Regions from separate parts of the Homo sapiens genome. Here region 1 is linked to region 2. A link means that fine-mapping ties the variant in region 2 to the expression of a gene that starts in the linked region. Tissue or cell type: whole blood. Region 2 holds a variant in brackets; the other region holds the start of a gene. All regions are shown on one strand. Distances are between the middles of the regions.

Region 1 (6,268 bases), 25 kb before region 2:
AATTCCAATTTTTAAATAATTTTCCTCTCTTCAAATTGTGGGAAAAGGTTATGGAAATCATTTTTACCGCTACTAGTACTTTTAAATAAGTAAGATATTGCTCACTCAGAATATTTCCCAGATGCATGCAGACACCTTAGCACCAGATATTATCACTCCCATTTTGCAGATGCAAAAACAAAAGCACAAATAAGGGAATCATTTGCCCAATGTCACAAAGTTCAGAGAAGAGCACTATTCCTAGTTCCCTGCTTTGGTTCTGGAAGCTAAGCAAAAACAAACAAATACTAACTATAAAATGAAAACAGCTCCCCTTGCCCCAAACACTAGGTTATGAGGATTAGGAAGACAGAAAGAGGTAGGAATTAAGAGTAGGTTAAATTATTACTTATTATGCTCGCCTTCAAAATAGTGTCAATAAATTCAACAAGCAAGAGGCTATGATGATTAATTCAGTTTACAATTCAGTAATATTTGCTAGGCTAAACACTATGATGCACGTGCGGGGAGTGGAATGAACTCTTCCAAGCAGGAGACTCTTTTTCTACTCCAAGTGACAAGGATGACAGTTCTTAACCACGAGTGGGCAGCTGGAGAGACCAAGAAAAGGAAGTTCTGTGGAGGCCCGTTGCCACCACTTAGTTTTGAAAGGCTTCTGGGTAAGACAAGCGACTCCTCAACAGAAGAGGAAACGAAAGGTTGGCCCCAACCACCATGGTATTATTTCCTTCCTCAAAACTGTTTAAATTTTTGCCTATGTCCTTTATAAACAGACCAACCACCATGGTATTATTTCCTTCCTTAAAACTGTTTAAATTTTTGCCTATGTCCTTTATAAACAGACACTTCTCCTAGTACTTAAGACTTTCTTGATCTAGAGCAATCTTCTCTCTTTTAATGATCCAAAATGTGTTTCATTCCAGGGTCAATTTACTCACACATTATGACATTACTTGTCCATTCACACAGGGGAGGTGAAAACCGAGGGAGGGCTGGGCGTAATCATTTCCCACCCCTAGGCCCTAGGCCCTGCCTCTTTTCATTTGCCAGTCTTGTGACATCATGCTATTCGTGGACTCTATTCCAAACGTTTCTGCTCTTTGACTTATTTTATCCTGGCCTATAATTGGGTTGGTTACAAAGCTTACTGAGAAATTTTTCACTTCATTCATTTATAACTGTCTTTCTATTCACTCTTAAAAAGGCTACTTTCCAAAGAGCTAATGCTTATACCCTGAAATATACTACCAGACACACATTCCCTGCCTTCCTTATAGGAAACAGTTCATGTATTTCTCATATTTCAGTTTATACATTTTTAGATTCTGTTCACTAAAAAACAGCCAAGTGTGCTATTTTAAATACTTCGACATACGTTCTTAGGCTGTTTTCACTATTATGTATCCTGAATGATGCTCTAAGCATCATTATTTCTTAAATCTTTCCTTTGAGGCCTATGACTTAAAAACCAGCATAAAAATATGAGGCAAAAACAAACAAACAAACAAACAACCCTCTAGAAGCAGCACATCCAGAGAGGGCCTGAAGAAATACACTCCTTTGAGGACTTATCAGAAAAGAAATGTATGAGTGAAAAAAGGAACACGAAAAGAGGAAGAAGTCACCAACGGGAAAGAATGGAAAGGAGAGTAAGGCAAGTCCCTCCTAAAAGAAACAGACGGGAAAACTAGCAGAGGTTCTAGAGCAAGTGGAGCAATATATCCACGACCTAGGAGAGAGGTCACATCCCCCCAGGCACTTACCGTGTTGCATTTTGTGCCACACACCACTTGCCTATGATTCAACCACTGAGATGCAAACACTTTATTAAGGGTCCCAAGGTGAAACTCTCTCTCCTTCAGGAGACTGGGAAGTTGCTGTGCTGCATAACCATGCAACACTCGAGAGTAGCTGGTTTCATTCTGTAGCCTGACTTCCCGGTTCTTCAAGTAGTATACTAAGGATCTCTTCACAGGAGGAAGTCTTTTCCTTTTGTGAAGCGAGTGATCCCAGCCAAACTGTGGAAACAACATTAGAAATCAGGGCTTTGGCTACTCTTCTTCAGAACAGATCCTACTGTATTACAGAAATCACCAACTCATAACTCATACTGCAGAATTTACAAACAACACAAATACAAACACAAGAGAACAAGAATCTCAATCCAGAAAGTCGTTTAACTCTTCCAACATTAAAAAGATGTTGCTCACAGTCAAACTTACCAATGTGAATTACAAGGGCTGAAAGTCAAGGGAATGAATGCAGAATAGAACAGACTAAAAGGTTTACTAGACATTTTAGGAGTGAAAGATTGAAGGAAATGAGAGGTAGAGTGATTCCCATACCGACATGGGCTGCATCTCTACCCAGCCCCCTTCTCCCTCTCAGTCTGTACTCCCACTGGAGCACGGAAGATACAGTCCAAGGAGCCAGACCTGGCTCCCAGGTCTTCCAGGGATGCATCATCAATGACCGTTCCTCTGTCATCATGCCCGCGCTCCAGGCAGTTGCAGAATTCGAAAAATCAACCGCCAACGGGGTAGTAGGCCCCCGGGAAATCAGAGGCCATATCTATGTCCAAGAAGGCCTTCCCCTCCAAAGGGGGCGGCATAGAGATGATACCTGGGAACTGTTGTTTCTTTTGGGGTCCAAACGCCGAAAGGCCCAGCTCAGGGTTGGGTATACATATAGGGAGACTACTTCCTTCTTCCAGGAGGGACGCAATCATCCCAGCTTCCTAGGGCCCATGGAAGGTAGAGTTCACTCTACCAGAGTTTGTTTCCGATTCCCTTAACTTCGGTTTCCCCTTCCTCCAAAGCCAAGATTCTGGTTTCTTTTCAAGCCCTATCCACGAATGCAGGCCTCCCGCGGATTATGTCCCATTCCTGAGTTCCCCTTTGGCTCCTCACCGCCCTGGCCTATCTGCCCTCCAGTTAACGAGGGTCCAGTCCTGACCCTATAGGCCCTGAACCCATTCCTGTTTTGCCTCTGACTGCAGACCCTGGACCCCGATTCCCGTCGCAGGATCTGCGGACCCTAAGCCCATCTTGGTTCCTCAGCCTCACCACCCAGGTGCCGGCCTCTCAACCCTCACCTGCGGGCCCTGAGCGTCGCTCCCAGCTCCCGGCGAGGCGGGCGCTTTCCGCTTCCTGCTAACTACTTTCCGGGCCATAGTGGGCAGCGCCGCCGCGGCCCCGCAGCCACATGGGGCGGGGGAAGCGAAGGATAGCAGGACGGCGGGTCATATACTGGGCCCCGGGGCCGCGCACCTTAGTGCGCCCGGCCCGGAAAATGGCCCGGACCCGGAGCGGCAGCAGAAAAAAGATAGGCGGAAAGAAAGGAAAGAGAGAGGAAGGACTTGAGCCGGGAAAGGGAAGGGGAAGCGAGAATGAGCGGCTTTCCGACGGCAGAGCCTGCAAGGACGGCGAGCGGCTAGAACCAAAACACCCCCTCCCCCTTGCTCGCGCGCCGTCACCCTTGCGCAGCCGCACTTCGGATAGCGTCGCCACGGAAACACCGCCGGAACGAGATGGGCGGGATCTAGGGGTTGGAAGATAGTTCTCTGGTGTTTCCCGGCCGCCGCCAGGCCATTTTCAACGGTTGTTTGGCTACTGCTGGATGGAAGTGGACGAGCTGGGGCCAAGGGAATCTGGCTTCTGGCCGCCGACCTCCGACCCCAGCCCGCCTATCCGCAGGCACCCGGAAGTGAGGACCACCAGTGCTGCTGGGGGAAGGAATCCTCCCTAGTGCAGGCCTTAACCCGGTTACCTCCCATCTGGCACCAAACGTTTCCCTGAATCTGTCACAAACCGTGCCCTGGCTCCAAGGGCTGGACAGGGGGGTGGGGGGGTGGGGGGCAGGAACCGCTCCCACCCTCGAGGTGAAGTCCAGTCAGGAAGTCAGGGCAGTGTGGCCAGACTTTCCCACCACTGAGAACCTGCCCAGCACAACCAACCCAGGCCGCCCTACGAGTCTCTGGCTACCCTCTTCCCACCGCTGGGTAGCCCTGAGGCTCCATTCTCCGCTCTGTCTCCTCCTGATCCTTTCTCCTGTCCGAAATGCTTCAGCCCCTCAGTCAGTTTCAGCTCCTCAGTCACCTTCCCCTTACGGTGCAACTTCACCATTCCCTTTAGATTTCCATGACCTGCCATCTAAACCACATGGTCTTTTGTGCTTTATGAAGTAGTCATCACGCTGTAAACTTATCTGTAGCTGCCTGCCTCACTCTTGGATTCAGGTTGCGTCTCCATTAGGGCAGGTCGGGAATTCTGAACTACAGGAAAGAGAGTGGTCATTTTTGGCTTGCCAGTCCAGTTAGAGCTGGCATTGGCCTCCAAACAAGGGGGCTTCATCAGGATCACCCTTGCCAACATTTTTGGAAGATCCTGAAGGAATATGACTGCCAGCCTTCGCTTTCCTCAAGCAAACAAACCCTCTGAGGAAGCAGGATGCTCTTGCTTGGGGCTGATTGGCCTCAGGCTGTGGTGCCCAGTTACCTGCTGGTCACTTCAGGCTTCAGGCCTCAGGCCTCATACCTCCAAGGAGCTCTGTTGGACCATCTCAAGTTCTGTCAACAAGGAGATTTGGATTTGTTTTCCAAGCCGAATCAAAGACCAGATTGAAGCAGGGTCTCCTGCCATCCCAAGTCGGCACTACCACTAACCCCTAATGTCTTGCGAAAGGCAGCTCCATCTTATTTGGTCAGGCCTGTCCCTTTAGAGATATGCACATAGTGAGTGGGTCAGGAGTGGGTCAGCTTTCTTTTTTGAGTCTGTTCTAATTCTGTCTTGCCCCGCAATGCTCTGGATGACCCAAGAGCCCCTGGGCAAGAGTCTGGAATCCTTTGAGAATCTCTAGGCTCAGATTGGGCTGTCAGTGCCAAGAGGGGCACACTGGGCACTGCTGCAGTCTCTTTCTCAAAGTTCCTTTACTTCATCTTCACAACCTAGGAACCATCCCCAAATGTACCTTATAGCAGAGCTCGCGATTTCTTTTCTTTTTTTTTTTTTGAGATGGAGTCTCACTCTGTAGCCTAGGCTGGAGTGCAGTGGCACGATCTCGGCTCACTGCAACCTCTGCCTCCTGGGTTCAAGTGATTCTCCTACCTCAGCCTCCTGAGTAGCTCAGATTACAGGTGCTCGCCACGTTGCCCAGCTAATTTTTTTTTTTCTTTTTTGAGACGGAGTCTCGCTCTGTCGCCCAGGATGGAGTGCAGTGGTGCGATCTCGGCTCACTGCAGGCTCCGCCTCCTGGGTTCACGCCATTCTCCTGGCTCAGCTTCCCGAATAGCTGAGACTACAGGCGCCCGCCACCACGCCTGGCTAATTTTTTGTATTTTTAGTAGAGACGGGGTTTCACCATGTTAGCCAGGATGGTTGCCCACTAATTTTTGTATTTTTAGTAGAGACGGGGTTTCACCATGTTAGCCAGGATGGTTGCCCACTAATTTTTGTATTTTCAGTAGAGATGGGGTTTCGCCATGTTGGCCAGGCTGGTCTCAAAATCCTGACCTCAGGTGATCCGCCCACTTCGGCCTCCCAAAGTGCTAGGATTACAGGCATGAGCCACCACGGCTGGCCAAGAGCTCACCATTTCTATTCAAATAACAGAATGAAAGTCCATTTTGGAAATTTAATTGACAATTGCCTTTAAAAGACTGCAGGCCAGGTGCGGTGGCTCACGCCTGTAATCCCAGCACACTGGGAGGCCGAGTTGGGCCAATCACCTGAGGTCAGGAGTTCGAGACCAGCCTCCTGAGTAGCTGGGTTGCAGTGAGCTGAGATCATGCCACTGGACTCCAGCCAGGGTGACAGAGCAAGACCCTGTGTAAAAAATAAAATAATAAAATAATAATGATAACAATAATAAAGTAGTAGAGTGGCTGGGGGAAAAAGTACTCAGGGCATGTAACTACTCCAAGAATGGCATTCTTAGTGAGCCTCACTGCTGAAACTGCGTGCTATAATCTGAAAGCAGTTTTATCTAATAGCTGTTAAAACAACCTACTGTGACTCTCAGAAATAGTTTTACTTATTGCCTTCACTTACCAATCAAAACTTGCCAGCTCTCCAAAACCTTACTAGTGCCAGTGAACTTTCTTGAAGAGCAATACATAACACTTCCTTTTTACAAAACTTCCAACCTTCTCTTTGTTCTGCAGACATGGCAAAGACCACCCAGTCTGCGTGTGCCCTGAATTACAATTCCTGCTTCACAAAACATTTTAATTTTAGAGATTCATCTATATATTTTATTTCACCTTGACAAA
Region 2 (7,757 bases):
CCTACTTGGGAAGCTGAGGCAGGAGAATTGCTTGAACTCTGGAGGTGGAGGTTGCAGTGAGCCGAGATCACGCCACTGCACTCCAGCCTGGGCGACAGAGTGAGACTCCATCTCAAAAAAAAAACCAAACAAAAAAACTCTCTCCAGGGCACAGTGAGGCAGTTGACAGCTGGCCAGACAGTGGACAGACACATCTATTCACTCATAGTAGGCAGAAGGGTATTACTTTCTTTGTACAATCGTATTTGAAGGGAATAGAGGGGCTGTGTTGTCCTTGGGAAGCTTTGTATCTTTCCATAAAAGGATATTTTGAGGAAGTCTTAAATGTGGAGATCACAAATGCTTTATGCTCCCTTTTCCATCAAAATTTCTTCCTTGTTTACATTCCCTTACAGGGTGGAATGGATAACTATTGTTTTGGCCTTCCTGGTATCTGCGCACCCTTCTTTTGATAGAGAATCCTGATTATACTCTTAATTTCAGGCTATGTGGTTTGACTGGGGACGACCTGGCCATTACTCTAGGATTGGATATGTAATCTAGTTCTTTCCAAAGCTGGAACTATTAGGAACAAAGCTCCATAATGCTGGGGCTACTATACTAGAAGAATGTAAGGCTGGAGCTGCTGGTATCAGCTTGCCATTCGGTAGGGGAGCCTGTCTAAGAATGAAGTCAACACTGAGAAACATAGACCCAAGAGATAGAAGCCAATCCTGATAACACTGTCTGGGAAGCTCCTTCAGTTTGAGTAGAGCTTCTGTCATTGGAAACCAAATACGTTTTGACTAATCCACAGGGGATATAAAAACTATTTGTCAGCTCTCTAAATGACATTTTGGCAGATGATATGCCTACCCAGAATTTGATTAATGTAATTAAGTTTCATCTTATTCCAGAAAGTATTGATGGTCCCTTCTAGCAAGAAGGTCCCTCCTTTGTGTTTTATTTTGCTGTAAGAAAAAAAGGCAGGCCGGGCGTGGTGGCTCACACCTGTAATCCCAGCACTTTGGGAGGCCGAGGCGGGCAGATCACAAGGTCAGGAGATCAAGACCATCCTGGCTAACATGGTGAAATCCTGTCTCTACCAAAAATAAAAAAAAAATTTATCCAGGTGTGGTGGCGGGCGCCTGTAGTCCCAGCTACTCAGGAGGCTGAGGCAGGAGAATGGCGTGAACCCAGGAGGCGGAGCTTGCATTGAGCTGATATCGCACCACTGCACTCCAGGCTGGGCAACAGAGTGAGACTCCATCTCAAAAAAAAAAAAAAAAAAAAAAAAGAAAAGAAAAAAAGGCATCAATTGGGGTTTAAGTTTGTTGGCATTGACAGGGTTCCACTCTATAGCCCAGGCTAGAGGGCGGTGGCACATCACAGCTCACTGCAGCTTCTACCTCCTGGGCTCAAGGGATCGTCCTGCTTAGCCTCCCCAGTAGCTGTGACTACAGGTGCACACCACCATGCCCAGCTAAAATTTTTTTGTATTTTTTGTAGAAATGGGAGTCTTACTATGTTGCCAAGCTGGTCTTGAACTCCTCTGCTCAAGAAATTCTCCTGCCTGGGCCTCCCAAAGTGCTGAGATTACAGGTGTGAGCCACCGTGTCCATCCACATTTAGGGTCTCTGGCACATACTAACAGGGAGACTCTGAACAAATCTGGGGAATATATCTGAACCTTGGTTTCCTTATCTGTCAAATGGATATATGATCTAGGAAGACCTCTCTTCCTTTTCATGGCGTGTTTTTTTGTTTGTTTGTTTGTTTCCTTTTTTTTTTTTTTTTTTTTTTTGAGACAGAGTCTCACTCTGTCGCTCAGGCTAGAGTGCAGTGGCACAATCTTGGTTCACTGCAACCTCCACCTCCCAGGTTCAAGTGATTCTTGTGCCTCAACCGCCTGAGTAGCTGGAATTTTAGGTGCACACCACCATGCCCAGCTAATTTTTTTGTTTTTTTGTTTTTTTGTTTAGTAGAGATAAGGTTTCACCATGTTGGCCAGGCTGGTCTTGAACTCCTGACCTCAAGTGATCCTCCCACCTCGGCCTCCCAAAGTGCTGGGATTACAGGTGTGAGCCACCGTTCCTGGCCTGGTTCTGTTTTGAAACTTGGAGTGGAGTGGAGAAGATACTGCCATATTGTCCTCTAAAGATACTAATTTATGGCCGGGCATAGTGGCTCATGCCTGTAATCCCAGCATTTTGGGAGGCCAAGGCAGGCAGATCACTTGAGGTAAGGCGTTTGAGACCAGCCTGGATAACATGGTGAAGCCCCGTCCCGTCACTACTAAAAATACAAAAAAATTACCTGGGTGTGGTGATGGCTGTCTGTAATCCCAGCTACTCCAGAGGCTGAGGCAGGAGAATCGCTTGAACCCAGGAGGCGGAGATTGCAAGGAGCCGAGGTTGCGCCACTGTACTTCAGGCTGGGTGACAGATTGAGACAACGTCTCAAAAAAAAAAATTCTAATTTACATTTTTACATTTTCCTTGTAAATGAGAGTGCCCATTTCCCCACATCCTAGCCAATACCAAGTATTGTCAATTTTTTTTCCTTTTCCTTTTCTTTTTCCTTTCCTTTTCCTTCCTTCCTTTTTTAGCAGTCTAGCTGTACAGGGATTAAAATATGCCAGGGATTTAATTTCTCTAATTACTTGGAAGACCATCTGTGCCCTGCTTTGATGCAGGAGTCCCTGCTCTGCCCAGAGAACCATGTGGTGCTCTGCCAAAGCCCCTTTTCTCCAGGCTTTCCTACTCCTCATCCCCTACCAATTGGCTATGGGATCACTTTTGTCAGAGAGTAGGACTGGGAGATGGAGCTCTAGACAGAAATCCTCCCCACACAGCTGTGCCCCTGATACTCTGGGGACGGACAATCACAGAGGACCATTTGACATCAGCCACCAGTGGTCACCAGCCAATTTCCAAGAGCTGCATCTGGGCGGAAACCTACTGTGGCTGAAGGAGTAAAGTGCCCCCCATGCTCACCATGGAGACTTTTGCAGTTTTATCTCCCTTCAGCAGACCTGACTTGAGTTCAAGGCTGAGTCATCAGGGTGAGCATGGGAGTATTTTTCTTATGCTTAAATACAGGTTAATGACATTATAGCAGAATTCTAGTAAAGAGGGCATGTTTATCCAGTTAAAATTTATTCTTGGCTGGGTGCAGTGGATCACGCCTGTAATCCCAGCATTTTGGGAGGCTGAGGTGGGCGGATCACTTGAGGTCAGGAGTTTGAGACCAGCCTGGCCAACATGGTAAAACCTCAACTGTACTAAAAGAAATACAAAAATTAGCCGGGTGTGGTGGCACATGCCTGTAATCACAGCTACATGGGAGGCTGAGGCTGGAGAATCTCTTGAACCCAGGCGTCAGAGGTTGCAGTGAGCCAAGATCATGCCACTGCACTCCAGCCTGGGCAACACAGTGAGACTCAAAAACAACAACAACAACAGCAACAAAAATTATTCTCTATAATGAAAAGCCACAAGCAAAAATTGGTTTTTCAGTTTCCTATTTACTGTCTAGAATGAGACAGACTTATTACAGGCTGTTTGGGAAGAGGAGAAAGTTGATTTAAGTTATTGTATCCAATTATTTTTATTTTTATTTTTTTTTTTTGAGACGGAGTCTCGCTCTGTCGCCCAGGCTGGAGTGCGGTGGCGCGATATCGGCTCACTGTAACCTCCACATCCCGGGTTCACGCCATTCTCCTGCTTCAGCCTCCCAAGTAGCTGGGACTACAGGCGCCCAGCACCACGCTCAGCTAATTTTTGTATTTTTAGTGGAGACAGGGTTTCACTGTGTTAGCCGGGATGGTCTCAATCTCCTGACCTTGTGATCCACCCGCCTCAGCCTCCCAAAGTGTTGGGATTACAGGCGTGACCGTCCTGCATCCTTTTATTGTTAGCCATTGAGCAGCAATTTCCCTTCAATTTCATCTACCCCTCCTCAACTCTCTGAAGAATCTGAGAGACAAATAAAAGAGAGCTAAAGATGAGGGCCAGAGGAGAAAAAGAAAAAGGTTGCCTCAAAAAGTGGCTCGCTTTTCTTATCAATGTCTTTTTCTTGTCTATCATTATCGATTC[C/T]ACCCAGCAATTTCTCTGCCTGATCTGCAGCCCACCTCCTTATCTGCAGACATCCAGAGTGCCCCTTCTTTGCCGGAGTAAGTCATGTACCTCAGTTGAGAGCTCCCGTTGGGACATAAAGTCCATGAATTCAGTGAGGCCTTGCTCTTCTCTGTGATCAGCACAGAACTCAGCTCTTGGCCTTGCCAGTAGCAGCAGCAGTCAGAGGTAAAGGGGCCTTGGGGGAGAAGTGATTCTGACTCCTTTATTATGTAGGTGAGGAGACTGAGACTACCCCTTCTCTCATCAAGAAGGGAAGGCATCTTTGGGCCTCAGTGGCAAAAAGGTCAGGAGAGTGGGTAGTGGGGTGCTGTTGTTTGGAGCACCCAGTTTTGGAGTCAGACCGACTTGGGTTGAAAGCCAGTGATCCTGAGTAATAACTTCCACTCTCTAAACGTGTTTCCTTCGTTGCAAATTGGGGTTAATAATGTTGTGTTCCTTACAGAACTATTAAGAGAATTCAATGCACAGAGACATATAAAATACTACGCTTGGAACAAAAGAAGTATTTTAAAAGTCGTTAATATTATGCATTTCATTTTTTTTCCTTTTTTTCCCCTTCTAATCAATGTCAGAAAAATTAAGGAAATAGGAAGTCACTTCCAAGGGAGCTCTGGCTGCTCTGCAAACCTGTTAGTTAGCTATGAGATCCAAGCTACTCAGGAGACCCAGAGCAAGTTGTTACTTCTTTCTACTGATTGGGAAACTGAAGAATAGAAGAAATGTAATTGTCTGCCTTGCCTAATGGCATGGTGTAAAATAATAAGAAATATGCAAATTGGTCTTTGACCATGGTTCCTGTCTGACACAGAGCTTCTAAGAACTGTATAATTTTCTGAGAGATTGGAGCTTCTGATACAGAGCTCCTAAGTCTCTTGTAATTTCAGTTGATAGAAGTACATTTTGTGCTGAAGCAACTCTGTGAGCTCCTGGATGGGGGCTAACCACCAGAAAGACCAAGTCATAATTTGAAGCTTGGAACTTTTACCCTTACCTCCCATTTTCTGGAGAGGAGAGAGGGCTGGAAATGGCATTAATAATCAGTCATGGCCAGGCACAGTGGCTCACGCCTGTAATCCCAACACTTTGGGAGGCCAAGGTGGGCAGATCACTTGAGGTCAGGAGTTCTAGACTAGCCTGGACAACATATCGCTACTAAACCCTGTCTCTACTAAAAATAGCAAAAAACAGAAAAATAAAATTAGCTGGGTGTGGTGGTGTGAGTCTGTAGTCCCAGTTACTCAGGAGGGTGAGGCAGGAGAATCACTTGAACCCGAGAGGTGGAGGTTGCAGTGAGCCAAGATTGCACCACTGCACTCCAGCTTGGGCAACAGAGCGAGACTCCGTCTCAAAAAAAAAAAAAAAAATTAGCCATGCGTGGTGGCAGGTGTCTGTAATCCCAGTTACTCAGGAGGCTGAGGCAGGAGAATCACTTGAACCCGGGAGGCGGAGGTTGCAGTGAGCCGAGATCGCGCCATTGCACTCCAGCTTGTGCTACAAGAGCAAGACTCCATCTCAAAAGAAAAAAAATCCCGGCCGGGTGTGGTGGCTCACTCCTGTAATCCCTGCACTGTGGGAGGCCGAGGCAGGCGGATCATGAGGTTAGGAGATTGAGACCATCCTGGCCAACATAGTGAATCCCATCCCTACTAAAAATACAAAAATTAGCTGAGCATGGTGTTGCATGCCTGCAGTCCCAGCTACTTGGGAGGCTGAGGCAGGAGAATTGCTTGAACCCGGGAGGCGGAGGTTGCAGTGAGCCGAGATCATGCCACTGCACTGCAGCCTGGGCGACAGAGCAAGACTACGTCTCAAAACAACAACAACAACAACAACAACAAAACCAAAGGTACAGTTTTTGGGTTGGGGAACACATCCATGTGCTGGGAGGATGGTACATACCAACTCCACAGGGACAGAAACACCCGTGCTCAGGACCTTTCAAGACCTTGTCCTATGTATCTCTTCATGTGTCTGTCCATCTGTACCCTTTGTAATATCCTTTGTAATAAACCGATAGATGTAATAAAATGTTTCCCTGAGTTCTGTGAGCCTCCCTAGCAAGTTAAGTAGGAGGGAGTCATGGGAACTCCCAATTTATAGCCAGAAGTTCTGGAGGCCCAAACTTGCAACTGGCATCTGAGGAGCAGGGCAGTCTGGTGGGACTGAGCCCTTAAGGTGTGGGATCTAATTCTAACTTCATGTAGATAGTGTCAGAATTGAACTGAATTATATGACACCCAGTTGGTGTCCACTGGAGAACTGCCTGGTGTACAGGAGAAAAAAACCCCACACATCTTGTTACAGAAGTGTTCTATGTTAAGAGTATAGTAGGAGAAAACAGTTCGTTTAGTTTATTTTTCCTACTACACACATGGTGTAACAGAAAAAGCATGGGTTTTGAAAGTAGGATTTTGAACTGAGTTCAAATGCTGGCTATGCTGCCAAGTTGCTTTGTGATCTTGGATAAGTTACAGAACCTCTCTGAGCCTTTCTCCGAGATGTTAATACCTACTACATAGGGTTATTATGAAGAGTAAATGAAATGATGTATGTGTATGCCAAACACATGTGAAGTTGTGAAATCTATTTTTTTTTTTTTTTTTGCCTATTCTAGAATCTAATTTTTCCTTTTTCTGGTAGCATAATTTGATTTTTTCTTTAGGGAAGTGCCTTTCCTCTTCTGCACACTCTAATGCTAAAACTGTCAGTCAAGATTCCCTACTTCTCCAGCCAAGTGGTCATATTACCCAAGTTAGGCTAGCCAGACCCTTGTTGCCTGTAATTCGAATCCTTTTGGGGGTGAAATGGAGATGGAAAATGGCTGGAGCTGATTCATCCCAGGTGTCATTCTGAAAAGACTATCTAATAGTTTTTGCCATCTAGATCTCTGTAGCTACCTGGTTCTTGTCTTTTACTTTTTAAAATTAATTTATTTTAGATACAGGGTTTCACTATGTTACCCAGCCTAGAGTGTAGTGGCTTTTCACAGGTATGATTATGGAACACTGCAGCCTTGAATTCCTTGTCTCAAGCAGTCCTTCCACCTCAGCCTCCCAAGTAGCTGAAACTACTGACTTGTGCCGCTGCACACAGCTTAAACCAATAATTTCATTTACTTTATTTTTTATTCTTTAAAAATTTTTTAACCAATAATTCTAAAAAATTAAATTTAACATTGTAATGATTTTAGAAAAGCGGTAATTGCTTTAGAAACAAGTCAACATTTCTTTTTAATTTTAGTCAGTTCAAGTCATGTTAGTCTATGGATTTTAGTCAATGATTTTTTTCCCTTTCAAGTTTTTTATGCTGAAGTGTTTTAAAATAACTGTAGACATTCTTAACTCTCGTAAATTACATAGTCAAAAAGATTTAATTCCTAATTTCTACTCAAATTTCTCCAACTGTACCAAAAATTACTTATACATGCATTCTGTCCAAACTAGGATCCAACCACAGATGACACTTCAAATCTTAGAATCCAGGTGCTATGTTCCTTAAGCCTCTTTTAATGTAAAAGAGGTTTTTTTAGACTTTTTTTTTTTTTTTTTTGAGACGGAGTCTCACTCTGTCACTAGGCTGGAGTGCAGTGGCGCGATCTTGGCTTACTGCAAGTGATTCTCCTGCTTCAGCCTCCCAAGT

What was found. PIP is the estimated chance that this variant, and not a neighbour inherited with it, causes the effect.
Region 1: DCAF12 starts here. The variant in region 2 is fine-mapped to the expression of DCAF12 in whole blood (TOPMed, PIP above 0.99).

Annotation. Positions count from the first base shown.
Region 1 is chr9:34,123,260-34,129,527 of GRCh38, forward strand. It overlaps DCAF12 (DDB1 and CUL4 associated factor 12), which reads right to left and starts at 3,439. Exons shown (of 9, transcript NM_015397.4): 1 at 3,095-3,439; 2 at 1,764-2,018. The coding sequence starts at 3,172. RefSeq lists an enhancer at 2,988-3,689 and a silencer at 3,124-3,173.
Region 2 is chr9:34,147,389-34,155,145 of GRCh38, forward strand. No RefSeq gene overlaps it. Among named protein-coding and RNA genes, the nearest start is that of DCAF12, 25 kb to the left of the region's middle. The variant C/T (reference allele first, on the strand shown) is at 4,077.